7 linked regions of the Homo sapiens genome follow. The protein of the gene in region 2 purifies or fractionates together with the protein of the main gene of each other region. This does not show direct contact. Each region holds a gene or a part of one and is shown on either strand. Other genes may lie near its edges.

Region 1 (3,500 bases), on a different chromosome or scaffold from region 2:
CTGATGATTATTACTATTTATCCTCCTCCTTACCAATATACAAATATAATTTTTTAGCCTTCAATAATATAATAAGACTATATTAATTCCTTAATTTAGAAAGAGGCTATTTCCTTTTCTAGGAAAAGGGCATTGAAGTGATGTTTTCTCCCCACCCTTGCCCTACTTGGACTCTTGATTGGAATGTTCTCCCTGCAGCAGTCAGCCCAAAGGAAGGTGAGTTTTCTTTTTTCTTTAAGTTTTATTCATACTTTGGATACTGTCTTCAGATATGTCTTCTAATTCTCTAAATCTCCCTTTGGCTTTATCTAATATTCTGATTATACTATCAGTTGAGTTTTCATTTTATTTTTCTTATGAAAATTATATATACACACACCACTTAGATTTAATATTTCTCACATTTTTCTACATTTGTTTTATTTGTTACTGTTTTTTCTTTGCTGACATATTTTGATTTTTGTTTTGTTTTAATTTTACTTTAAGTTCTAAGGTACATGAGCACAACGTGCAGGTTTGTTACATATGTATACATGTGCCATGTTGGTGTGCTGCACCCATTAACTCATCATTTACATTAGGTATATCTCCTAATGCTATCCCTCCCCACTCCCCCTACCCCACAACAGGCCCCGGTGTGTGATGTTCCCCTTCCTGTGTCCAAGTGTTCTCATTGTTCACTTCTCACCTATGAGTGAGAACATGCGGTGTTTGCTTTTTCTCCTTGCGATACTTTACTGAGGATGATGGTTTCCAGCTTCACCCATGTCCCTACAAAGGACATGAACTCATCCTTTTTTATGGCTGCATAGTATTCCATGGTGTATATGTGCCACATATTCTTAATCCAGTCTAACATTGATGGACATTTGGGTTGGTTCCAAGTCTTTGCTATTGTGAATAGTGCCGCAATGAACATACATGTGCTTGTGTCTTTATAGCAGCATGATTTATAATCCTTTGGGTATATACCCAGTAATGGGATGGCTGGGTCAAATGGTATTTCTAGTTCTAGCTCCTTGAGGAATCACCACACTGTCTTCCACAATGGTTAAACTAGTTTACAGTCCCACCAACAGTGTAAAAGTGTTCCTATTTCTCCACATTGTATCCAGCACCTGTTGTTTCTTGACTTTTTAATGATCACCATTCTAACTGGTGTGAGATGGTATCTCATTGTGGTTTTGATTTGCATTTCTCTGATGGCCAGTGATGATGAACATTTTTTCATGTGTCTTTGGCTGCATAAATGTCTTCTTTTGAGAAGTGTCTGTTCATATCCTTCGCCCACTTTTTGATGGGCTTGTTTGTTTTTTTCTTGTAAATTTGTTTGAGTTCATTGTAGATTCTGGATATTAGCCCTTTGTCAGATGAGTAGATGGCAAAAAATTTCTCCCATTCTGTAGGTTGCCTGTTCACTCTGATGGTAGTTTCTTTTGCTGTGCAGAAGATCTTTAGTTTAATTAGATCCCTTTTGTCAATTTTGGCTTTTGTTCCCATTGCTTTTGGTGTGTTAGACATGAAGTCCTTGCCCATGCCTATGTCCTGAATGGTATTGCCTAGGTTTTCTTCTAGGGTTTTTATGGTTTTAGGTCTAAGATTTAAGTCTTCAATCCATCTTGAATAATTTTTGTATGGGGTGTAAGGAAGGGATCGAGTTTCAGCTTTCTACATATGGCTTGCCAGTTTTCCCAGCATCATTTATTAAATGGGGAATTTCTTGTTTTTGTCAGGTTTGTCAAAGATCAGATGGTTGTAGATGTGTGGTATTATTTCTGAGGGCTCTGTTCTGTTCCATTGGTCTATATCTCTGTTTTGGTACCAGTACCATGCTGTTTTGGTTACTGTAGCCTTGTAGTATAGTTTGAAGTCAGGTAGTGTGATGTCTCCAGCTTTGTTCTTTTGGCTTAGGATTGTCTTGGCAATGCGGGCTCTTTTTTGGTTCCATATGAACTTTAAAGTAGTTTTTTCCAATTTTGTGAAGAAAGTCATTGGTAGCTTGATGAGGATGACATTGAATCTATAAATTACCTTGGGCAGTATGGCCATTTTCACAATATTGATTCTTCCTATCCATGAGCATGGAATGTTCTTCCATTTGTTTGTGTCCTCTTTTATTTCATTGAGCAGGAGTTTGTAGTTCTCCTTGAAGAGGTCCTTCACATCCCTTGTAAGTTGGATTCCTAGGTATTTTATTCTCTTTGAAACAATTGTGAATGGGAGTTCACTCATAATTTGGCTCTCTGTCTGTTATTGGTGTATAAGAATGCTTGTGATTTTTGCACATTGATTTTGTATCCTGTGACTTTGCTGAAGTTGCTTATCAGCTTAAAGAGATTTTGGCCAGAGACAATGGGGTTTTCTAAATACACAATCATGTCATCTGCAAACAGGGACAATTTCTTTCTCCTGCCTGATTGCCCTGGCCAGAACTTCCAACACTATGTTGAATAGGAGTGATGAGAGAGGGCATCCCTGTCTTGTGCCAGTTTTCAAAGGGAATGCTTCCAGTTTTTGCCCATTCAGTATGATATTGGCTGTGGGTTTGTCATAAATAGCTCTTATTATTTTGAGAAACATCCCATCAATACCTAATTTATTGAGAGTTTTTAGCATGAAGGGCTGTTGAATTTTGCCAAAGGCCTTTTCTGCATCTATTGAGATAATCATGTGGTTTTTGTCTTTGGTTCTGTTTATATGCTGGATTACGTTTATTGATTTGCATATGTTGAACCAGCCTTGCATCCCAGGGATTAAGCCTACTTGATCATGGTGGATAAGCTCTTTGATGTGCTGCTGGATTCGGGTTGCCAGTATTTTATTGAGGATTTTTGCATCAATGTTCATCAGGGATATTGGTCTAAAATTCTTTTTTTGTTGTGTTTCTGCCAGGCTTTGGTATCAGGATGATGCTGGCCTCATAAAATGAGTTAGGGAGGATTCCCTCTTTTGCTATTGATTGGAATAGTTTCAGAAGGAATGGTACCAGCTCCTCCTTGTACCTCTGGTAGAATTCGGCTGTGAATCCGTCTGGTCCTGGACTTTTTTTGGTTGGTAGGCTATTAATTATTGCCTCAATTTCAGAGCCTGTTATTGGTCTATTCAGGGATTCAACATCTTCCTGGTTTAATCTTTGGAGGGTGTATGTGTCCAGTAATTTGTCCATTTCTTCTAGATTTTCTAGTTTATTTGCATAGAGGTGTTTATAGTATTCTCTGATGGTAATTTGTATTTCTTGGGATCGGTGGTGATATCACCTTTATCATTTTTTATTGCATCTAGTTGATTCTTCTCTCTTGTCTTCTTTATTAGTCTTGCCAGCAGTCTATCAATTTTGTTGATCTTTTCAAAAAACCAGCTCCTGGATTCATTGATTTTTTGAAGGGTTTTTTGTGTCTCTATCTCCTTCAGTTCTGCTCTGATCTCAGTTATTTCTTGCCTTCTGCTAGCTTTTGAATGTGTTTGCTCTTGCTTCTCTAGTTCTTTTAATTGTGATGTTA
Region 2 (3,500 bases):
GAAGGCCTCCTGCAGACCTCAGCCCGGGGGAGCCCAGAGCCTGCCCTGCTGTCCCCGCCATGTGGCTGCCTCTGTCTCTGTGCCGCCAGCTGCCCAGCTGTGCAGGGCTGGGACATCTGACGAGCTGTGCCTGAGCTCCAGGAAAGCCCCGGGGGTGCCGAGGATTAGCCGGCTTTGGGTCAGCCTCAGCGTCTCTCCCCTTGTGGGAGTCACTTTCCACTGACTCCTCTTGATCTCTCGGAATCCAGATTAAATTCCGATAATGAGCCGAGCTGGAGGCCTTCCATAGCCCTGCGGCTCTGCTTAAAGCGCGGCCCCAGACAGCTGGAAAGACATGTTGGAGCCGCCCTTGGCGGGCTGTGGAGCGAGTGGGGGCTCAGAGGCAGGTCTGGGGACAGTGGCCTTGGCTCCAGAGGCCTTGCTGGGGTGAGAGGGGGCTGCGAAAGGATCGGAGTCTTATCCTCATTTTCTGAACCCCAGGCCTGAGGCCAGGCCAGCTGGGGCCTGGCTTCCAGGAGCTGGACTTGCTCCTGTCTCCATTGGTGCAGACTTTGGTTCCAGGTGAAGGTGAGGATATTTGGGGTAGGGGTTGTGCTGTTTGCCCTGTTTCTGCTGTGGAGCTGGGACCTGGCATCTTCCATCCCAGTCTTCCCCGTCTCTCCTTGAGCATGTGTCAGGCTTGCCCCACTCCACAGCGCTGCCCCACATGTAGGCGACACACTTCTGCTTTGGGAGCTGGCCTCTGAGAACCTCCCTGGGAGGCCAAGGCCAGCCAGGGCAGCAGAATCTGCTCCAAGGGAGTCGGCCGCCACCAAGGTCGAGATGATGTTGGCAGCTGGATGAAAATGTCCCTGGGTTCATCTCAGTGATTTTGGCTGCCAGGAGGGTGACCTCAGCGTGGTCTCGAGGGCCAAGATTTGGATCAGCTGCAGCCTGAGTCACTCTGAGGAAGAGGGAGCTGCCCCCTGCCTGTCCCCACCACACAGGATGGATTGGCAGAGGAGGCCTGGGCTCAGTTTCCTGGGTCCCTTCAGCCCAGGCAGAGGCTCTTGCCCTCGACTAGCCCTGGGATGGGGGCCCTGAGTTTCTGCCTTTCTGAGAAGCTCCCTGGGGACGCCGTGATGATTTTGGTCCATAAACCTGAGAAGGTAGGTGGGGCTGGATGTGGTAGGAGGAACGATGCAGCCCCCTCACAGGGCGGCCCTCGGGCAGTGGGCCAAGGGCTCCTTGCCCAGTCCTCTCCTGGGGATGCTGGGGTGGTGGCAACTTATGATGTGCGGATTCATGACTTGGTAGCAAGACTCTGGGCGGGTTTTGCCCTGCCGTTAGCCCCCATGAGCGTGTTTGGGCAGAGAGCCATGGTCACGTTCCAGAGCATGTCTCCACCCTGTGGTTGAGGCTTCTTGTTGCGTGGTGCTTACTGTTTATGACTGTGCTGGACACTTCAGCTTTGTTTCATGCCTTGGAAAGGTTCCTATGAAGATGTATCATCCCCATTTTACAGGTGCGGAGCCTGGCTCAGAGGTGGGAAGTAACTTGCCCAAAAGCACACAGCTACAAAGTGGCAGAGGTGGGGCTCAAACCCAGGCTCTTAGATTTCAGCAGTCACCATCTTAGCCATGGCCGTGCCTCAGTGATTCCCATAGTGCTGATTCCCTCACCTGGGGCTCAGATGGGTCCATTGATGAGTCCTGAGCTGGTTTTCAGCCTTGGCTGTGCAATAGAATCACAGAGGCTTTTAAAACTCCTGATCCGTAGGGGTTGAACTGTCATTGGTGTGCTTTAAAAGCTCCCAGGTGATTCCCTGTGTGCTGGGGTGTGAACAGGTGGCTAAGATCTCTCTAATTTCTCACCCATGAGCTGTCTTACATGCCCAAGAGGAAGGAAAGAGATTCCTTTTTTTTTTTTTTTTGAGATGGAGTCTCACTGTGTTGCCCAGGCTGGAGTGCAGTGGCACGATCCCAGCTCACTGCAACCTCCACCTCTCAAGTTCAAGTGATTCTCCTGCCTCAGCCTCCCAAGTAGCTGGGATTACAAGTATGTACCACCATGCCTGGCTGATTTTTTTATTTTTAGTAGAGATGGGGTTTCACCATGTATTGGCCTTCTGTGACACATTCCATGTTCCCTTCAGCTTGGTGTCTCAGAGAAGACTGTTCTTCTTCCCATGAGACTGAGCCCAAAGTGTAGTCCAGACCACAATTGTCAGTCTCAATGGCACAGGAAAGGGACTGGCTAAGGGTGAAGATCCCTTTGGACTCTGGCTCCAGAGGCTTCTGGAAGCTTCTGGAAGCTTCCAGAAGCCTCTGGAGTTTCTTGCTGCTCCTGAAGGCTACATGCCTGTTTCCTCGTCTCCTGGCTTCTACCCCTTGCCACTACACCTCAGCCCCAGGGCATGAGTTCTGGTTTTGAGCTGCCTTCTCAGGATGTGCCAGGTCAGCTTCCTGAGTAGCCTTTTCAGAGGGCAAGGAGGATTCCTTTTGGCTGCTGGGAACTTCCAGGATGTCCTGGAAGGTCAGAGGAGAGCAGCCCTCATCAAGGAGCCTTGGCATTTTTCCTCGCAGTCCCTTTCTCTGGGCCTCACTCCAGAACCGAGACTGAAGCTGCCTGAGAGGGAGTGGCAGGCCCTTAATGCCTTTGGTTCCGCTTGGGGTCCTCTCATGGATCTGCAAGGATCCCTCTGGAAAAAGCCACCCAGCTGGGCAGAGATGGCAAACCACTGTGTTCAATCCAGTTAATGCCAGAGACACAGCCAGTATCCCCTACTCAGCATCTGGGGGCCAAATGCCCGTTGGCTTCCTGTCCTGTGGCCTGAGGCCATCTGGTGGGCCTTGGTGGCTTTTTTTTATCTCTGTCCCTGTTATTTCTTCCCATAATTCATCCCGAGCCTGGCTTCACAGGGAGCATACGGGTGGTGGCTGGGAATCGATGGCAACAGATTCCGTTTGCTGAGTGTTTGCGGCGGGCGGGGGCTCAGCAGGTTGCCCACATTTTCCCTGATTCCCCGTAGGTGTTATATCACGTTCAGTGAAGCCGAGCGGGTGTCCCCACGAGGTGGTCAGTCCTGCCCCTCTTGTAGACCACCTGTGGGAAAGGTCTGCTCTCTTTACGTTTCCATCGATTTAGCTGGGTCCACAATGCGATCTTGGAGCCTCCTCTCTCCCATGACACTTGTCTATGCTGGGAGAAGGGATGGCTGCCTTTGGGAACAGTCATGATGACAAAAGCTAATTGCATGCAATGGGGGCTCTTTACTGCTTCCCACAACAACCCCCCATGGAGACACCCTTATCCCTGCCCACCCCTCTTTTTTTTTTTTTTTTTTTTTTTGAGAGATAGGGTCTTGCTCTGTTGCTCTGCTGGAGTGCAGTGGAGTGATCACAGCTCACTGCAGCCTCGACCTCCTGGGTTGGAGCAATCGTCCCACCTGAGCCTCTCAAGTAGCTAGGACCATAGGAACACACCACTATGTCTGGCTAGTTTTTTACTTTTGTAGAGAT
Region 3 (3,500 bases), on a different chromosome or scaffold from region 2:
TAATACTCTTGTGCTGGGTCCTAGATGATACGCATGTTCAGCTGTTGTGCACACCGCTGCCACAGTTTCCCCGTGTCGCACGCCCACAGCATCTGAAGGTATCCAGGTTTCCACATCCTTGCCAACACTTGATATTGCAAGTCCTTTAATTTTAGTGAGGATGTAGTTTCTTTGTGGTTTTAATTTTGTTTCCTGACAACTAATTATGTTGAGCACCTACATATGCTTGTTTTCCTGAATTCTCTTTGACTGCCGCATAAGTCCCTTCCCTTGTTGGAAAAATGAAGTTATAGTGACCCTTTTCTCATGTCTTAAATTATTATTTGAAATCTTCCCTTTCTGGAGCTTAGTGGAAAATGGAGTGGTTACCACCTTTGAATAAGCTTTTTCTTTTTTCAAATTAAATACTTTTAGTATTTATTATTTGTATAGATCTGTGTACGACAAGTCTGACTTGAAGAAGTTGATAATCTTGTTGGGCAGATAAGACTTAAGCAATTAAAAATTAAATAACAATAGAGTAATTGCTACATTCTAAATTTCCCTTGGTCCTGATTCAGAAAAAGTAGAATTGTTTGGAGCTTAGTCCTGAAGGATGGGTGTAATTAGGATGGGTGGAAGACGAGAAGGCATTCCAGGTTCGTGGAGCGGGGTGTGTGGAGTACATGTAGATTGGATTACATTGATTCAAAGTCACTTTGGGGAGCTAAACATTGATTACACATGGACATAAAGATGGGATGATAGACACCAGGGACTACTAGAGGGGGAAAGAGAGGGACGGGGACAAGGGCTGGGAAGCTACCTGTTGGTAACTGTGCTCACTCCCCGGGTAATGGGATCATTCACACCCCAAACCTCCGCGTCCTGCAGTATATTCTTGTAACAAACGTGCATAGGTACCCCCTAACTCTAAAATAAAAGTTGAATTTTTTTTTTTTTTTTGAGATGGAGTTTCGCTCACGCTGGAGCGCAGTGTTGCCCAGGCTGGAGTGCAATGGTGCGATCTCAGCTCACCACAAACCTCCACCTCCCGGGTTCAAGCGATTCTCCTGCCTCAGCTTCCCGGGTAGCTGGGATTACAGGCCTGCACCACCACGTCTGGCTAATTTTGTATTTTTAGTAGAGATGGGGTTTCTCCATGTCGGTCGGGCGGGTCTCGAACTCCCGACCTCAGGTGATCCGCCTGCCTCAGCCTCCCAAAGTGCTGGGATTACAGGTATGAGCCACTGCGCTCAGCCTGAAATTTTTTTTTAAGTCACACTGATTTCTATCTTTAAATATTTCTGACATCGGGATACACACTGATAGCATGATGCAGTTTAATTGGGGGTATGTTTTTCTTGGTAGTGTATAGAAGAATATCACGGGGTCATCTGATTTCAAGTACAGAAATGGACTAAAACTAGCTTAGTAGGCAAAACAAAAAGAAACAAAAACAAGTTTATGAAAGGATAGGCGTGTCTGACAGAATAGAAAGGTCAGAAACACCCAGATAGCAGGTATCACCACCACAGGAGTTGCTTGTCTTTCTCCAGGAGCTGGGTGCACTCCCTTCTTCCTGTCTCCTTCATTCCTGGCTCTGCAGACTGGCTTTCTCCATTTCTCACACATGGTTTCCTAGCTTAAGCGTCAAGAAAGTTTGATCATAATTACCAGTTTTCAGGAGAGGAAAGTCTGATTGGCCTGGGTCATGTTTCCACCTGATAACCTCAGTCTGAGGAGGGCTTGGAGGCTTGGTTCAGATGGAACAGTCTAGGTGCACCTGAGGGCTGGGGTAGATTCTTCAAGAAGCGGGGAGTGGTCGTTGACTGAATGCCTGAGTTCCTGTGGGACAGGCACAGGAAGGAGTCTAGGCTAGAGATGCAGATTTGGGGGTTATCAACAGAATGGTGGCTTCGAACACAGGTCCTTAAGAGGACTTGGAGTTTGGGACAGGGTGGGACTCGTGAGGTACTGCAACATTTAATATGTGTGGGAGTTGGGGATACTTACAAAAGAGTCACACCTCCGGGAGTGGAGGAGAGTGGTGTCCAGGGAGTGAATCTCAGGGAGGGAGGAGTGACAGGCAATGCCAAGTGCTGCACAGACACAGTGAGTCCACTGACTGCGGAGCTGGGAAGAATTGGGTGATTTGAGCATATTCTGTAGGGTAGTCAGAGTTGGAAGTCAAGAGCATAGCACATTGGAGAGTGAATGGGAAGTCACAAACAGGGCCGAACACAGGCCGGATGCTGTGGCGCACGCCTACAATCTGCCACACCGAAGACTGAGGCGGGAGGATCGCTGGATCCCGGGAGTTCAAGGCTGCAGTGAGCTGTGATCATGCCATAGCACTCCAGCCTAGGCGACACAGCATGACCCCATCTCTTAAAAAATAAGGCAGGGGCAAGGCAACAGTGTAGACCTTTTTTGAAAAGCACCGGAAGATTGGATGATAGAGGGAAATTCGGTGTCTCGGAAATAGTTTTGTCTGTTTTGGGAGACGGGGGAAACTTAAGTTTATAGACTGGGAAGGACGGGGGTTAAAAATGTGGGGAAGACAGGAGTGGCATAACTTTCAGAGTCTTCGAGAATACCCGAGAGGGGAGAACTGAGTGGGAGCAGGCAATGGGAAATATTTTGAGACTTAAAGAAGCTAGGGATGAATATGGATATAGAAAAGTTTGTAGACCGGAGGAACTGAAATTTTTTAAGTTTTTGTAGATCTGACAATAGTGGGAGTAGAATTAAGATCACTTTAATGTTTGTCCAGTGCTTTTTTTAAAAAAAAATAGACTTTATTTTTTAGAGCAGTTTCAGGTTTACAATCAAGCAGAGGGTAGGGTTCCCATATGCCTAGTCTCCCTCACCTCACTTTTCTCTATTACTAGCATCTGGCATTAATGTGGATCATCAGTTACAATTGATAAACCAATGTCGATGTGTTATTATTAATTGAAGTCCATAGTGTACATTCAGGTTCACACTGTGTGTTGTGCATTGTGTAGGTTTTGACGAATATATGATGACATGTATCTACCCTTACAGCGTTATACAGAAGAGTGTCATTGCCCTAGAAATCCTCATTGCTGGCCAGGTGTGGTGGCTAATGCCTGTAATCCCAGCACTTTAGGAGGCCGAGGTAGGCAGTCAGGAGTTTGAGACCAGCCTGGCCAACGTGGTGAAACCCCGTCACTACTAAAAATACAAAAAATTAGCTGGGCGTGGGAGGCTGAGGCAGGAGAATTACTTGAGCCCTGGAGGTGGAGGTTGCAGTGAGCCTGGATTGTGCCAGCGCATTCCAGCCTGGGTGACAGAGCATGACTCTGTCTCCAAAAAAAAGAAAAAAGGAGGAGGCCCGGCACTTTGGAAGGCCAAGGAGGGTGTATCACCTGGAGTCAAGAGTTCGAGACCAGCCTGGTCAACATGGTGATACTCTATCTCTACTAAAAATACAAAAATTAGCCAGGCGTGGTGACAGGTGCCTGTAATTGCAGCTACTCAGGAGGCTGAGGCAG
Region 4 (3,500 bases), on a different chromosome or scaffold from region 2:
GGCGCGATCTTGGCTTACCCAATCTCCGCTTGCTGGGTTCAAGCAATTCTCCTGGCTTAGCCTCCCGAATAGCTGGGATTACAGGTGTGTGCCACCACGCCTGGCTAATTTTTGTATTTTTAGTAGAGATGGGGTTTTACCATATTGGCCAGGCTGGTCTCAAACTCCTGACCCCAGGTGATCCGCCTGCCTCGGCCTCCCAAAGTGCTGGGATTACAGGTGTGAGCTACCGTGCCCGGCTTTAAATTTTTAGTTAGATTAAATATAACCTAAGTTGTTTTTTTTTTTTTTTGAAAATTATTAATTTGGGGGGAAAATAGGACTAATTTGAGGACATGTAATAATTTTTCTGTGCTCTCGTCCTTAGAGGTTGTATATGAGAGCTTAAATGATCACTTTAAAATACGAAGAATTGTGGTAATGTCATGTTTAATCTTTACATTTTAAAAACCTTGGCTTAGTTTTTTTTTAAATATTATAAAAACTCTAATAATTAAATAGAATGTAAAGGAAATGTATACATATGAATCAAGAGGATTCTTGGATTTTTAAGTAACTTTTTTTATTAGAAATGAAAATATTTTCCCTTTTGACGTTACATAGAAACCTGTGCTGAATTGTCTAGTCAATTAACGTGTATTTATTGAGACTTAAACACATGCCCATAATGTGCCTGGTACTGTTTAAGAAATAAATTAAAAATATAAGATACACAGAGATCCTTTTCTTACTGTTTATTGTCCAGTATTTATTTTTAATTTGCAGTGCACCCAAAAGAACTTAAAATGTCTTATAAGAAACACAAGGGTAAGAAATAAACTAGAGTCAAGGGTGAAGCTAATAGAAAAATGTATGCTGTCAAGCTGGGTACAGTGGCTCAGGCCTATAATCCCAGCACTTGGGGAGGCTGAGGCGGGAGGATTGCTTGAGGCCAGGAGTTTGAAACTAGCCTGGGAAATATAGCAAGACCTGTCTCTACAAAAACATAAAGCATAAAAAAAAATGAGCTGAGCCTAGTGGCATGTGCCTGTAGTGTTAGTTACTCTGGAGGCTGAAGCAGGAGATTCACCTGAGCCCAGGAATTTCAGGATACAGTGAGCTATGATCGTGCCACCACTCTCCACCCGGAGTGACAATGAGACCCTGTCTCAAAAACAAACAAAATGTATAAGCTATAAACTTTTGTTGTTGTTGTTGTTGTTGTTTTTGAGACGGAGTCTTGCTCTGTCGCCCAGGCTGGAGTACAATGGCGTGATCTCAGCTAACTGCAACCCCTGCTGCCCGGGTTCAAGTGATTCTCCTGCCTCAGCCTCCTGAGTAGCTGGGATTACAGGCGCCCGCCACCATGCCGGCTAATTTTTGTGTTTTTAGTAGAGTCGGGGTTTCACCAGGTTGGGCAGGCTGATCTTGAACTCCTGACCTCAGGTGATCCACCTGCCTTTGCCTCCCAAAGTGCTGGGATTACAGGCGTGAGCCACCATGCCCGGCCAACTTTGTTTTAATTATCTGAGCAGCTAGTGCAAAAAGAGAAACCTGGGTGGACGTAATTATTTATAGATTAAAAACAAGGCAACTGCTTAGGAGATGCACAAATCTGATAATTAGATGAGTTTTTAAAAAAATCCTGATGAGATCCCCTCATACAGAAGACATTGCTGTAATGAAGTGTCTTCAGTCTGTGTCTTCAGATACATACTTGTTTTAAAAAATGTTCCTTGATAGAAAGCAAAAGTATATTACTGAAGTATAATTTGATAAAAGCAATTTGAATGGGAGATCTCACACAAAATAATCTACAAACTTGATTCTCTCTTGTTCCTGGAGTGTACTTCCCACCGTCCTTTTAATCTTTAGATCTAATCTCAAGCAGAAATTTCTCTACAAACCTTTTCCACATCTTCCTAAGTCAAAGCCCGCATTTATAGATTCTCATAGAACCATGTATAGGTTTGCGGCACTTGTCCTGTTAAGTGTGAATCTAATCAAGGGCAAATGGTGATAAAGGCCTCACATTGCTGCTCTGTTTTACAACTCTAGTAATTTTTACCTGACAAAAATACATCAAGGCAGGCATGTAAAGACTTCTAGACTGCTACCTTGTCCTTCAAACAAAAATTTCTTTTTTTTTTTAATTAAAAAAAAATTTTTTTAAGTCTCACTTTGTTGGCCGGGCTAGAGTGCAGTGTTGCGATCTCCGCTCCCTGCAGCCTCCACCTCCCAGATTCAAGTGAGTCTCCTGCCTCAACCTCCCAGATAGCTGGGATGACAGGCATGAGCCACCGTGCCTGGCCTAAAACAAAAATTTCATAGTTTTCTAGTTTAAGAAGGGAATTGAGCATGCTGTTAGCATTCTCTCTCTCTCAATTAAAATGACTATTAAGAAATTTTTAAAAAATAGTAAGTCCATTACAATGAAGAGAAAAAGAGAGGTTGGAAGGGCCAACAGAGTAGAAAGGGACAGAGAAGTTGGAAGCTGATTGATGGATGAACTAGAGTAGATGAATCTGGAGCCCAGAATCCAGAGCTTTCAAAGCCGCAGCGGAGCTGGAGCGCCTTTCCTGGCAGAACCCCAACAAAGTTCTTGGCTAGCAGTTGGAAGTAAGGAGGGTGGAAATGAGAAGGTAGTGCTAAAACATGGAAATTAATTTAAAGCCTGTGTATAGACCATCCCCTTAGCCAGCTGTCCATGACAATGGACAGGCTTTTTGAGATAAATTGAACAAACTGCCTGAGAAGAACTGGGACTGCTGGGTATGGCTTTGGGACCCCAGGGTTAAGCTCTCTTCCAATGGCTTTGAGGGGTCCCTGCCCTAGGGCTGGCTTCCCACTCTAATGCCAGGTGCCAGTCAGCAAGCCTCCCACATACACAGAGCTCCCAGCCAACATTTCTGTTTTGGAGATAGTATTATCTTGAAAACAGACCAGCTGCTTAGAATAGTGAAGTTGGAGACGGAGTTTAATCATCTGACATATAAGGAAAAGCAGAACGTGAATGACAGAGACCAAGAGAAACACAACAGCGGATCCTCAAGGAAACAGACGAGAACTTTTAAAACTTTGGTTAATGTCATCTTGGAGACTTCAGAAAGTTTTTGCGTTCATAAAACCAGCACATGGTGCTGTGGAGAAAAAAGGAACGATCAAGAAAGAAGCAAGCATTCTTAGAAATTTAAATGTGATTGCTGTAGAGAAAAATAGGAAGGCACCAGAAGATAATGGCAAGGAAATCTTCCAAAATGCAGAGGGAAATAATGATAAAAAATATGAGACAACATACAGATAAATAGCTAATATTTACTGAGGCAATTTTTTTTGTCAGGCGTTATTCAAAATGCTTTGTGTTTTAATTTATGTTAATCCTCACAACCACATTATGAAGTAGGTGCTCTTATTCTCATCTTTTTAGAGAGGCAGGCATTGATAATAAGTCACATGGCTAGCAAGTGACAAAACAAGCTCAAACCCAAGCAGTCTATTTCCTCTTGGCCTTACTGTATGGC
Region 5 (3,500 bases), on a different chromosome or scaffold from region 2:
CCGTCTCCACCAAAAAAATACGAAAACCAGTCAGGCGTGGCGGCGCGCGCCTGCAATCGCAGGCACTCGGCAGGCTGAGGCAGGAGAATCAGGCAGGGAGGTTGCAGTGAGCCGAGATGGCAGCAGTACAGTCCAGCTTCGGCTCGGCATCAGAGGGAGACCGTGACCATGGAAAGAGAGGCAGAGGGAGACCGTGGGGAGAGGGAGAGGGAGAGGGACCTTGGTTTTCTTTCTTTTCTTTTTCTTTTTTTTTGAGATGGAGTTTCATTCTTGTTACCCAGGCTGGAGTGCAATGGTGCGATCTGAGCTCACTGCAACTTCCACCTCCTGGGTTCAAATGATTCTCCTGCCTCAGCCTCCCAAGTAGCTGGGATTACAGACGCCCGCTCCCACGCCTAGCTAATTTTTGTATTTTTAGTAGAGATGGGGTTTCTCCATGTTGGCCAGGCTGGTCTCGAACTCCTGACCTTGAGTGATCCACCCACCCCAGCCTCCCAGAGTGCTGGGATTACAGGCTTGAGTCACCGTGCCTGGCGCTTGGTTTTCTTATAATCTTCATTATTCTTTGCTGTGCCTACCTTTGTAATTTGTAGATAATGGAATGTGTCCACCCGGACTTTGATGATGTCCTGCATTGTTTCAATAAACAAGAAATGGTTTTCCCAGAAAGGGATTTTCTTTTCCCTCTACCTATGCCCTGCACATTCCATCTGGACTTGTCCAAAATCCCTCTGGTTCCCACGAATGCCCCACTGTCCACAGTCCCCACATTAAGACCCCCTTCTGCCATCTCTCAACAGCCCCTGGCTAAAAACATTCTCCAAGCCTACTTGCCCCCTCAATTCTACCACTGCCACCACTTATGAAAAGGTCCGGTGGTCACAGCCCACCTCCGACGGGTTCCTCCCTTCTGGTTTGACACCTCTATCCGTCGCAGCCCCATTGCACCTTCTAGGTTTTCTTGGCACCTCCAAGTTCCACTTGGCCTGCAGGGTTTAGCTGTTTCCCCAGCAATAGTGGCCCACAGAGGACAACCTTCCTTCACCCCCTAGTTCAGCCGAGTGAAGGCCAACATATCTCAAAAGGAATTTTGCTGGAAAATGAAGAGAAGGCAACACATAGACCCTGGGAAATGGAAAGACACCGAAGCAGAAGCGTTGGAGCCTAGAGATTTTTCTATCCTATGTACCTCTTCCCTCAGACTGGCTCCGTGGCTGCGTGGAGGGCTCCCCTGCTCTGACACTCATAACTTGGTATTTATTTATTTATTTATTTATTTATTTATTTATTTATTTTAACACTTGATCTTAGCTGAGAAGTGATGGATAACCTGCTTTTTCTGTTGTTTCTGTTTTTTTTTTTTTTTTTTTTTTTCGAGATGGGGTCTGGAATGCAGTGGTGCGATCATAGCTCACTGCAGACTCAAACTCCTCGGCTCAAGGGATCCTCCCACCTCAGCCTCCTGAGTAGCTACGTTGAAAGGCATATGCTACTACACGCAGCTAATTTTTAATCTTTTGTAGAGATGGGGTCTCGCTATGTTGCCCAGGCTGGTCTCAAACTCCTGGCCTCAAGCAATCCTCCTGCCACAGACTCCCAAAGTGCCGGGATTATAGGCATGAGCCACTGCGCCTGGCAGAGCCTGGTTTTTTTTTAATACTTAATCTTAGCCAAAAGGCTGAGAAGCGATGGAGAATGTGGATTTTTGGACGTGAATTCTGTTGGGTTTGGTTTTCCAGTAGCCTATTCTCTTCGCAGCCTTTGAACCTAACACCTCTTTGGCCCCAGCTGCTGTCTGCACTTGCAGACCCTCCTGCAAGCTCACCCTGTACTACCGCCGGGGGATGCCGTGATCAAGGAGCATCCTGCCTGTGGCTGGCAGAAGAGGCCATTCACTGCCCATTCGAAATCTCAGGCCTCCTCTGACTCTGTAGGACCCTGTGCCAGTCCAAGGGGGGCCGGGGTCTCAGCTCTGTTCCACAGTGCACACGCCTGACCCACCCTGGGCCCTTCTTGGCCCCAAGACTCTCCCTCGGCTACTCTATCAGGAATGGTTTTGAAGAATGCAAAGCAGGACAGGCTCACAAACCTCAGAAACCTAAACTATATAGCAGCGGCGGTGGTGGCAGCAGCCACCCACAAAAAGCAAGAGGCAGGTGAACTCCCAGCATCCCCCTCCACCCACCTGCCTCCTCTGCTTCTGAGAGTTAAGGTCACGCCACCACCTTGGTCCCTATTCTCACACACTAGAAGACGGGTTAGCAGTTTGGCACTCCATGTTGAAAAGTTGCCAACCCCTGCCCTTCAGGAAAATGTCCTCGGCCTCCACCTCCCACGGACAGCTCTGCCTCCTTCCTGCCCTCTCCCTCCCCACTCCCTCTCACCCTAGTCCTAGCCCCTTTAACTGTCCGGAGAACGGACCCGAAAGATGTGGATGGTCCCGTTACTGAGGGACACGACCAGGTACCTGCCATCCACCATGGTGGTAACCCGGGGCTTTTCCAGGCCGTGGTAGGCTGTCAGGAAGTCTCCAAGGAGGGACCCCTTCGGGTCCAGGATCACCACCTTGTTGACTTCTCGAAGGGTCAGAAAGATGTAGCCCTTCTTATCCACAGACACGGAGCCCGGCTGGCAGCCATGCAGGCCTGGCCCCTTGTACTCCCCAACCACCTGGCCCAGCCCATCACAGATTACCACACTATTCTGCTGCCAGTCCGACCCCACGAAATGCCCCTGGGGGCTGGTGGTCAGAAACACCAGCGCCCGCAGGCCCCGGCTGGCCTTGCCTCCAGGAATGAACCGGGTGGCCAGGCTGCCTTCCATATTGTACACCTCCACGTGGCCCGCCACGCTGACAGCCACGCGGTCCCCGCTAGGCAGTGCCGCCACCGCGTGGCTGGCCTGGGAGAGGCTCAGGGCCCTGCGCCACTGCACTTCGCCGTTGGGGTTGATGAGATAGAGCCGTGCGCTAGCGGAGAAGGCCACCGCGCTCTGCAGGGCGGCCACGCTGCAAGGGGAGCAGCCCTCAGGGACCGGCACGGTGCCCTTGTAGTCGCCGTTGAGGGAGAAGCGTTTCAGTGCCCGGTTCTGCTCATCCGCCACCAGGATCTCCCGGGGACCGAAGGGACAGAGCCCGGTGATCCGGGGGGACCGCTTGTCTCCAGGCATCCGCGTGGGGAAACTGCAGTAAAAGATGGGTCTGGGGAGGAGGCCAGAGCCGTCCAGATTCGGCCCCAGGGCTGGGCTGGGCTCCCGGGAAATTGACTTGAGCCTGCCTTTGAACTTTTTCTTCTTGTTGGGTCTGCCACCCCTGTGGGGCTGGGGTCCTCCATCCTCGTGGGGTGTCTGGGCCCTGTCCTCCTCCAAGGTCTGGGCTCCCTCTTCTCGGGTTGTCTGGGCTTTTTCCTCTTTTGGGGTCTGGGCTCCATCTCCAGCCTGGGGCTGGACTCCACCCTGTCTCTCAGTCTTCGGCTCATCCTCCCTCCGGCTCTGGCTCTCCT
Region 6 (3,500 bases), on a different chromosome or scaffold from region 2:
TAGCAGTGTCCCTGGCCTCTATCCACTGCATGCTGGCAACACCACCACCACCCCAGTTGTGATAAAAAATGTCTCCAAATGTTGCCACATGTCTTCTGGGTGGCAAAATTACTACAAGTTGAGAACCACTGAGTTAGATCAGAGAGGTGGCATTTAAGATGAGAAAAAGGAATTCAAATCAGGAAATACTCAATCTACATATTTCTTTGTGTTTTATAACCACCTAAGAATTGTGTGCTTCGGGCCAGGCATGGTGGTGCATGCCTGTAATCCCAAATCCCAGCACTTTGGGAGGCCGAGGCGGGTGGATTGCTTGAGGTCAGGAGTTCGAGACCAGCCTGGCCAGCATGGTGAAACACCTTCTCTACTAAAAATACAAAAAAAAAATTAGCCTGACATGGTGGCAGATGCCTGTAATCAGTCCCAACTACTCGGGAGGCTGGGGCAGGAGACTTGCTTGAACCTGGGAGGCGGAGTTTGCAGTGAGCTGATAGCATACCACTGCACTCCAGCCTAGGTGACAGAACAAGACTGCATCTCAAAAAAAAAAAAAATTGTGTGCTTGAATAGCTTTATAATAATTTCTAATGACTAGATCAGTATTACGTGAGCTGTAATGTGAACAAATCCCAAAATCATCTTGCTATCTTGCTTCTCTTGATTCTGCTTTATATCCATCAATTTGATTTATTGACTCTTTAAATAGCAAGGATTGCCAAATAGATCAGTTTTATAAATAGTTTATAATAGACTAGTGCTTCAAAGTCTCAGTTTGTAGTGTACTTGGGAGTGAAGCAGAGACAAGACCACTATCACTACTGAGCCTGATAAAACATTCTAGCTTAATACTATCTTTTCTATTTTTGACACACAGTCTCACTCTGTCGCCCAGGCTGGTGTGCAGTGGCACGATCTTGGCTCACTGCAACCTAATTTTAAAAATGGCTCTGTCGACTGTATAAAGCACTTTGTCTTTTCCATCATTAATTTGATCAGAAAGCAGACCACTGAAAACCTTTCCTCCAAAACAAGAGTCAGCAAACTTTCTGTAAAGGACTAGGGAGTAAATTTTAAATTTTGCAAGGCAGACAGTCTGTTGCAATTACTCAGCTCTGCCCTTATAGGGAGAAAATAACCATAGTCAATGTATAAATGAATGGGTGTGGCTAGGTTCCAGTAGAGCTTTATTTACAAAAGCAGGCCATTTTTTCCCACAGAAATGTGATAGAAATAATTTGTGCTGAAATTTTCAGCTGTTGCAGAGTTTTTCACCTCTTTTATGTACATGTATAGCATTGTATTGACTACTTTTTTCTTTCGTCTATTTTGCCCTCTGATTTATTTTTCTTGAGCTTAGTAGCTCTGGTAAATGCCTTTATCATCACTAGGTTGATAGACAGTTTAACTGTTTGTCCTAGGTTGCTTAAAGTAATTGCTTTCTTTTGATACTATGATTGAAAAATTCTGATTACCGGAGCATTACTATTAGTTGAGGAAAGGTTTGAATGGAGAATTTTATTAACTGATGATGAGTGAGTATAAGAGCATTTTGAAGCCAATGGGTTGGCACGTGCCTATAATCCTAGCACTTTGGGAAGCTGAGATGGGAGGATCTCATTAGCCCAGGAGTTTGAGACCAACCTGGGCAACATAGGGAGACCTCATCTCTACAAAACAATTAAAAATATATTAGTAAGGTGTAGTGATACATGCCCTGTGGTCCCAGCTACTTGGGAGGCTGAGGTGGGAGGATCTCTTTGAGCATGGGAGGCCAAGGCTGCAGTGAGCTGTGATTGTGCCATTGTTCTCCAGCCTGGGTGACAGTGAGACTGGCTCAGAAAACAAAAGGTTATTTCTCTGCCATTACAGAAGAAGCATGCTACACTGTCTTCTCTTATTAAAATGCAATTAATAAACCCTGGACAGAATGCATTGTTGAGCAGCTATCCAAGGACTCTGAGAAGTAAATTTTAGCAGGTGAAATGGAGAAGAAAGCCAGAACTTTAAATTCCACTGAACCAGCAGTGAATTTCCTGTTTTTTTTCCCCTGTGGTATCTCCTCGCTGATTTCTCCTGGGCTTGCCAGAAACCCAGAACTGAAAAGTAGGGGCAGGCAAAAATAGTTCCAAGAAAGGCTCTCTAGTTCTCCTCTGCAAAGAAAGAATGAGAGGCCCCTTTGAATCAGAGTGGAAGAAATCTCTTTTTTGCTTTTGTTTTGTTCTATTCTGCCCCAATCCTCTTGTAGGCCTTTAGCAGCTGTGGCAGTTAGGCAGATGTCTAAAACAACGAGAGAAGGGAATCATTTTTTGTTTGTTGTTTGTTTTTGAGACAGAGTCTTGCTCTGTAGCCAGGGCTGGAGTGCAGTGACACGATCTCGGCTCACTGCAAGCTCCGCCTTCCGGGTTCATGCCATTCTCCCGCCGCAGCCACCCAAGTAGCTGGGACTACAGGTGCCCGCCACCATGCCCAGCTAATTTTTTTTTTTTTTATTTTTAGTAGAGACGGGGTTTCACCTTGTTAGCCAGGATGGTCTTGATCTCCTGACCTTGTGATCCTCCTGCCTCCCAGAGTGCTGGGATTACAGGCGTGAGCCACTGCGCCCGGCCAAAGCCCTATTTTTATAGGTAGTGGATGAAGAAGAGTCCTTCCCCTATCCCCTATGTGAGTCAGGCATTGTCAGAGAGATTATGGAAGGTTGAAGAAAGTAAACCTATAAAGTTTTATATGAACACTCCTTAGCCATTTTGCATGGATCTGACCCTAAACAGCACATCAGAGGCTTTGAAAACTAGAATACACAATAGACTGCCTCTCCAGGGCCAGCCTGGCCATTGGGTGGCAAATAAGTGGGGCAGATGCAAATAACATAGCAAAGGAGTTCATAACAAACCTGACACTGGAACCATAACACAACCTAGAAACATTGAGTAAAAACTTGAAGCCTAAACCAAACCAGATTGTCTGCTGAAAGTTTTTAAAAATCAAGACCTAGAATGATGTAACATGTCAAAATATCCAGGATGCCATCCTAAATTAGTCAACATACTCAAAACCAGGAAAATCTTAACATCTCAAAGGAAAAGACAGCAGACACCAACCTCAAGGTGACATGGACCAAGACTTTAAAGTATCTGTGCTACAAGTTGTAAGGGTGAATACTTTGTTTTAAGAGAGGGTCTTGCTCTGTTACCCTGGCTGGAGTGTAGCGGTGTGATCATGGTTCACTGCACCCTCCATCTCCTGGGCTCAAGCAAACTTCCCACATCAGCCTACCGAGTAGCTGGGACTACAGACCTGCACCACCACTCCCAGCTGCCTTTTTTCTTTTTAAGAGACTGGCTATTGCTATGTTGCCCAGGCTGGTCTTGAACTTCTGGTCTCGTGATCCTTCCTTCTTGGCCTCTGAACCACAGTGCCTGGCCACAACAGCCTTTAAAAAAAGAGAAAACAAAAATAAGAAAGGAAAAGACTGTTACACTGTTTAGTTCAGCCATGGAACG
Region 7 (3,500 bases), on a different chromosome or scaffold from region 2:
GATCAAACAGGTTTCTTTGTCCAAACCTCAAAGAAGTTAAAAAAAAAAAAGAGGGTAAATGTCTTGGTCTCCAGTCTCCTCTTACACTCATTCAATTTCCATACTGTTAGCAGTGATATCTTCTTAAAAACATATCTTGTCATATTAGTTCTTTGTCTGAATATATCTTTTGGTTTCTCACCGTCTACAGAAATACAGTTAAATCTTTTTCATGAAATCACCAAAAATTAAAAGGAATACTACTATAGATTGTTTCAAGTGATAGGCAATAGATCATTTGTATTTATTTTGTGCTTTTCTGAATTTGATTATTTGCTTTTGAGCAGTTATCATGTTTACAATTAGAATTATAAAACTGGAATGAAATATACCAAAATTAAGAGTGATTTCACTTTGAATGGTAGGACTGTGAGTCATTTATTTTCTCTTCATTTCTCTGTACTGTTTTCTCCAATCCAGCCCCACCTATCTTCCTCCCTTGATCCATTTCCTCCCCAACTCAACCCCATCTACCCCTTGCCCTAGCCACATTGAGCCTCTCACCATTCCTTAGTCAAGATTTTCCATAGCTTTGTACCTTTACACTTGCTTTTCTCTCTGTATAAAGGGACCCTCTTGCTTCTTTGCCTGGTAAAACCTAACTTGTCTCTCAAGACTCAGCTATGAAGACCTCCAACTTCTGCAGAATTGATTATTTACTCCCTCCTCTGTGCTCCCATAGCTTAGCCCTATACCATATTATAATTATCAGTTAATATATCTGCCTTCTGGAGCCTGAGTTCAAAAAGGATGAGGACTCTGCTTTATTCATTTTTATAAACTATGAATGAATGAATATGCAAGGCTGCCAAATCCAGAGAGAAGGTCTCACTAAAGTACAACATTTAAAAGCTACCAGGTGTTTTTTTTTTTCTCTCAAACATCTGTCTTTTAAAAATTCTGGCTGGGCGTGGTGGCTCACGCCTGTAATCCCAGCACTTTGAGAGGCTGAGGCGGATGGATCATGAGGTCAAGAGATCGAGACTATCCTGGCCAACATGGTGAAACTCCGTCTCTATTAAAAATACACAAAATTAGCTGGGCGTGGTGGCGCGTGCCTGTAGTCCCAGCTACTCGGGAGGCTGAGGCAGGAGAATCGCTGGAACACGGGAGGCAGAGATTGCGGTGAGCCAAGATAGCGTCACTGCACTACAGCCTGAGTGACAGAGTAAGACTCCATCTCAAAAAAAAAGAAAAAAAAATCGAAATAGCTCGTTTCTGCCTCATCTTTTTTTGAGAAAGGAACTCTGTGAAAAAGGATAAGGGAGTGAATGCTTTACACGTTACACACACACACACACACAGTTTTGAGAAGCCTGGTTCTCTCCTACCTCTCATGTGTACATTTTTAATTTTTCGTTCTTCATCATTCAACTCCTTGAGGGCACAGTATGTGGGATTAAAGGTGAGGAGCCGAGAGGATCTGGGTTTGCAAAATGGCTGGCATAGCTTCAGGAGAGCAGCACCCAGATTCAGAAAGAAAGCATCTGAGGCATACATTTGGAAAAAGATTTCTGGCATCTGATTGGCCCAAATCTTGGTGCGGCCTGCATTTGCATGCAAACAGTTTCCAAGCCAGGACAAGATACAGTGTTTGGTTTCTGGAGAGAGCTGGAGTAAGTTCTTCAGCATCTGGTAGATCTTTTCGTGGAACTGAGCCATGAACTGTTCAACCAGAAAACACAACCACAGAACGTTTCACAATCCTAATAGTTTTTATTCCCAAACCTTAGCAACTGGCAGTTTCCAAAAATATGCTAATCCTAATCTTTCCCCTCACTCTCTGTGCCTCATCCCCTAATTTGATTTTAAAATATATTTCTGGGCACTTATAAGAGATTTTCTGATCAGCTGCCCAACTGCAGATGGCATTACACGGTATTAGAGCACAGGTCTGTAAATTTTTTCTGCAAAGGGCTAGACAATAAGGATTTCTGGCATTACTTGCCATACAGTGTCTGTAGCAATTATTCAACTCTATCACTGTAGTATGAATTCAAACCAGAAACAATACATATACTAATGCGCATGGCTATGTTCAATAAACCTTTATTTACAAAAACAGGTGGCAGGCCAGATTTGGCCACTGCTAGTTTGCCATGCCTTGCCTTAGAGAGTTGTAATGATTAATGATTAGGGGACTTAAACTATCCCCAATTCAATCATTCAATGCCTCATGTTGGCCAGACCTCTACTATAATTTATGTGAAGAAGCCCAAAGAGAGGGCATAGGTGGAGACACGAAAAGGAAGAAAAACTGGGTTTATAAGCTAGAGTTCAGTCAAAAGATTTTCAGAGCTAAAGTTATAGCTCAGTGAGAAAAATGAGGGTTGGGGAGAAGTAGCTGTAGCAGTGCTACAGCAAAGGGTAATGAGTAGCAGCAGCTCATTCTTACCCCACACGTGCTGTTCTTAGCATATGCTACAAAGAGGGGATTTTTTTTTTTTGAGACAGAGTCTTCTTCTGTCATCCAGGCCGGAGCGTGATGATGCAATCATGGCTTACTGAAGTCTTGACCTCCCAGGCTCAAGTGATCCTCCCACCTCAGCCTCCCGAGTAGGTGGGACTACAGATGCTTGCCACCATGCCCACCTAAGTTTTGTATTTTTTTGTAGACATGGGGGTCTCACTGTGTTGCCTAGGCTGGTTTCAAATTGAACTCCTGGGCTCAAGCGATCCTCCCACCTTGGCCTCCCAAAGTGCCGGGATTACAGGCTTGAGCTACCATGCCCAGTTTTAATTTATTTATGTGATGTAAAAGCCAACTAGATCAATTTGCTTTCCCAGAGAGGCTTGAGCAGCCTTATCTGTATCTGCTTTCTGAGAAAACTCTTTTAAGATCAGGGGGCTGGGATACCCTGGTAAACAGTTCCACCTGATGGATGTTGGCCTCCTGTACTTTGATCTCCTGGGGGCTGGAACGAGATGGATTCAAAAAGTAGCCATGATTTTCTACAACACCCGGAGTCTTTAATAAGCAGGAGATACTCAGAATTACTCCCAGCAAGGTCTTCTGGTACATTTGCCCATTGGTAGGGTCCTTGGGCTGAATGTATTCTACAAAAACCTGTAAGAGAAGACAAGTTCTGCTTATTCATCTTCATGGTGAGATAAGGTGATGGGGTGGGAGGGCCTCAAAACAGTTAAGTTGATACAACAACCAAGCTATCTTTTTCTTATTTTATAGGTAGTATTATAGTGTCTTCAGGATAGGGAAGCATCATGTATTACACATCTAGCTCAACTGAATACATATCATCTTTCAGACCTACCTTTGCCATATCTTTTTGCCTAGTGAAATAGAGAAGAATATCCAGATATGCATACAAAAGGATCTGACAGAGCTCTAGATCTTTTATTCGGCCCAATAAAATATCAAACACTGGAATCATGACTTCTGGAAATGTTCTAACTTCCTCATCCAATATCAAGGCTTCAATGACCTCTTCCAGAAACTCAGT

What was found.
Region 1: the proteins of BMP7 (region 2) and GSTCD purify together in Homo sapiens (affinity purification with mass spectrometry; 2 studies listed by BioGRID and IntAct, with this or other methods). This does not show direct contact.
Region 3: the proteins of BMP7 (region 2) and UBE3C purify together in Homo sapiens (affinity purification with mass spectrometry, with the first as the bait; one large-scale study listed by BioGRID). This does not show direct contact.
Region 4: the proteins of BMP7 (region 2) and BTBD1 purify together in Homo sapiens (affinity purification with mass spectrometry; 2 studies listed by BioGRID and IntAct, with this or other methods). This does not show direct contact.
Region 5: the proteins of BMP7 (region 2) and TRIM56 purify together in Homo sapiens (affinity purification with mass spectrometry, with the first as the bait; one large-scale study listed by BioGRID). This does not show direct contact.
Region 6: the proteins of BMP7 (region 2) and AMD1 purify together in Homo sapiens (affinity purification with mass spectrometry; 2 studies listed by BioGRID and IntAct, with this or other methods). This does not show direct contact.
Region 7: the proteins of BMP7 (region 2) and UBE4A purify together in Homo sapiens (affinity purification with western blotting; one study listed by BioGRID). This does not show direct contact.

The regions. Positions count from the first base shown.
Region 1 is NC_000004.12:105,729,284-105,732,783, forward strand, and holds part of GSTCD (glutathione S-transferase C-terminal domain-containing protein), read left to right. Parts: intron 1-122; coding exon 123-216; intron 217-3,500.
Region 2 is NC_000020.11:57,221,642-57,225,141, reverse strand, and holds part of BMP7 (bone morphogenetic protein 7 preproprotein), read left to right. Parts: intron 1-3,500. UniProt on the Homo sapiens protein: Growth factor of the TGF-beta superfamily that plays important role in various biological processes, including embryogenesis, hematopoiesis, neurogenesis and skeletal morphogenesis.
Region 3 is NC_000007.14:157,141,926-157,145,425, forward strand, and holds part of UBE3C (ubiquitin-protein ligase E3C), read left to right. Parts: intron 1-3,500. UniProt on the Homo sapiens protein: E3 ubiquitin-protein ligase that specifically catalyzes 'Lys-29'- and 'Lys-48'-linked polyubiquitin chains.
Region 4 is NC_000015.10:83,057,253-83,060,752, reverse strand, and holds part of BTBD1 (BTB/POZ domain-containing protein 1), read left to right. Parts: intron 1-3,500.
Region 5 is NC_000007.14:101,088,481-101,091,980, reverse strand, and holds part of TRIM56 (E3 ubiquitin-protein ligase TRIM56), read right to left. Parts: coding exon 2,401-3,500; 3' UTR 1-2,400.
Region 6 is NC_000006.12:110,881,285-110,884,784, forward strand, and holds part of AMD1 (S-adenosylmethionine decarboxylase proenzyme), read left to right. Parts: intron 1-3,500.
Region 7 is NC_000011.10:118,373,100-118,376,599, reverse strand, and holds part of UBE4A (ubiquitin conjugation factor E4 A), read right to left. Parts: coding exon 3,312-3,500; intron 3,107-3,311; coding exon 2,915-3,106; intron 1,705-2,914; coding exon 1,371-1,704; intron 27-1,370; coding exon 1-26.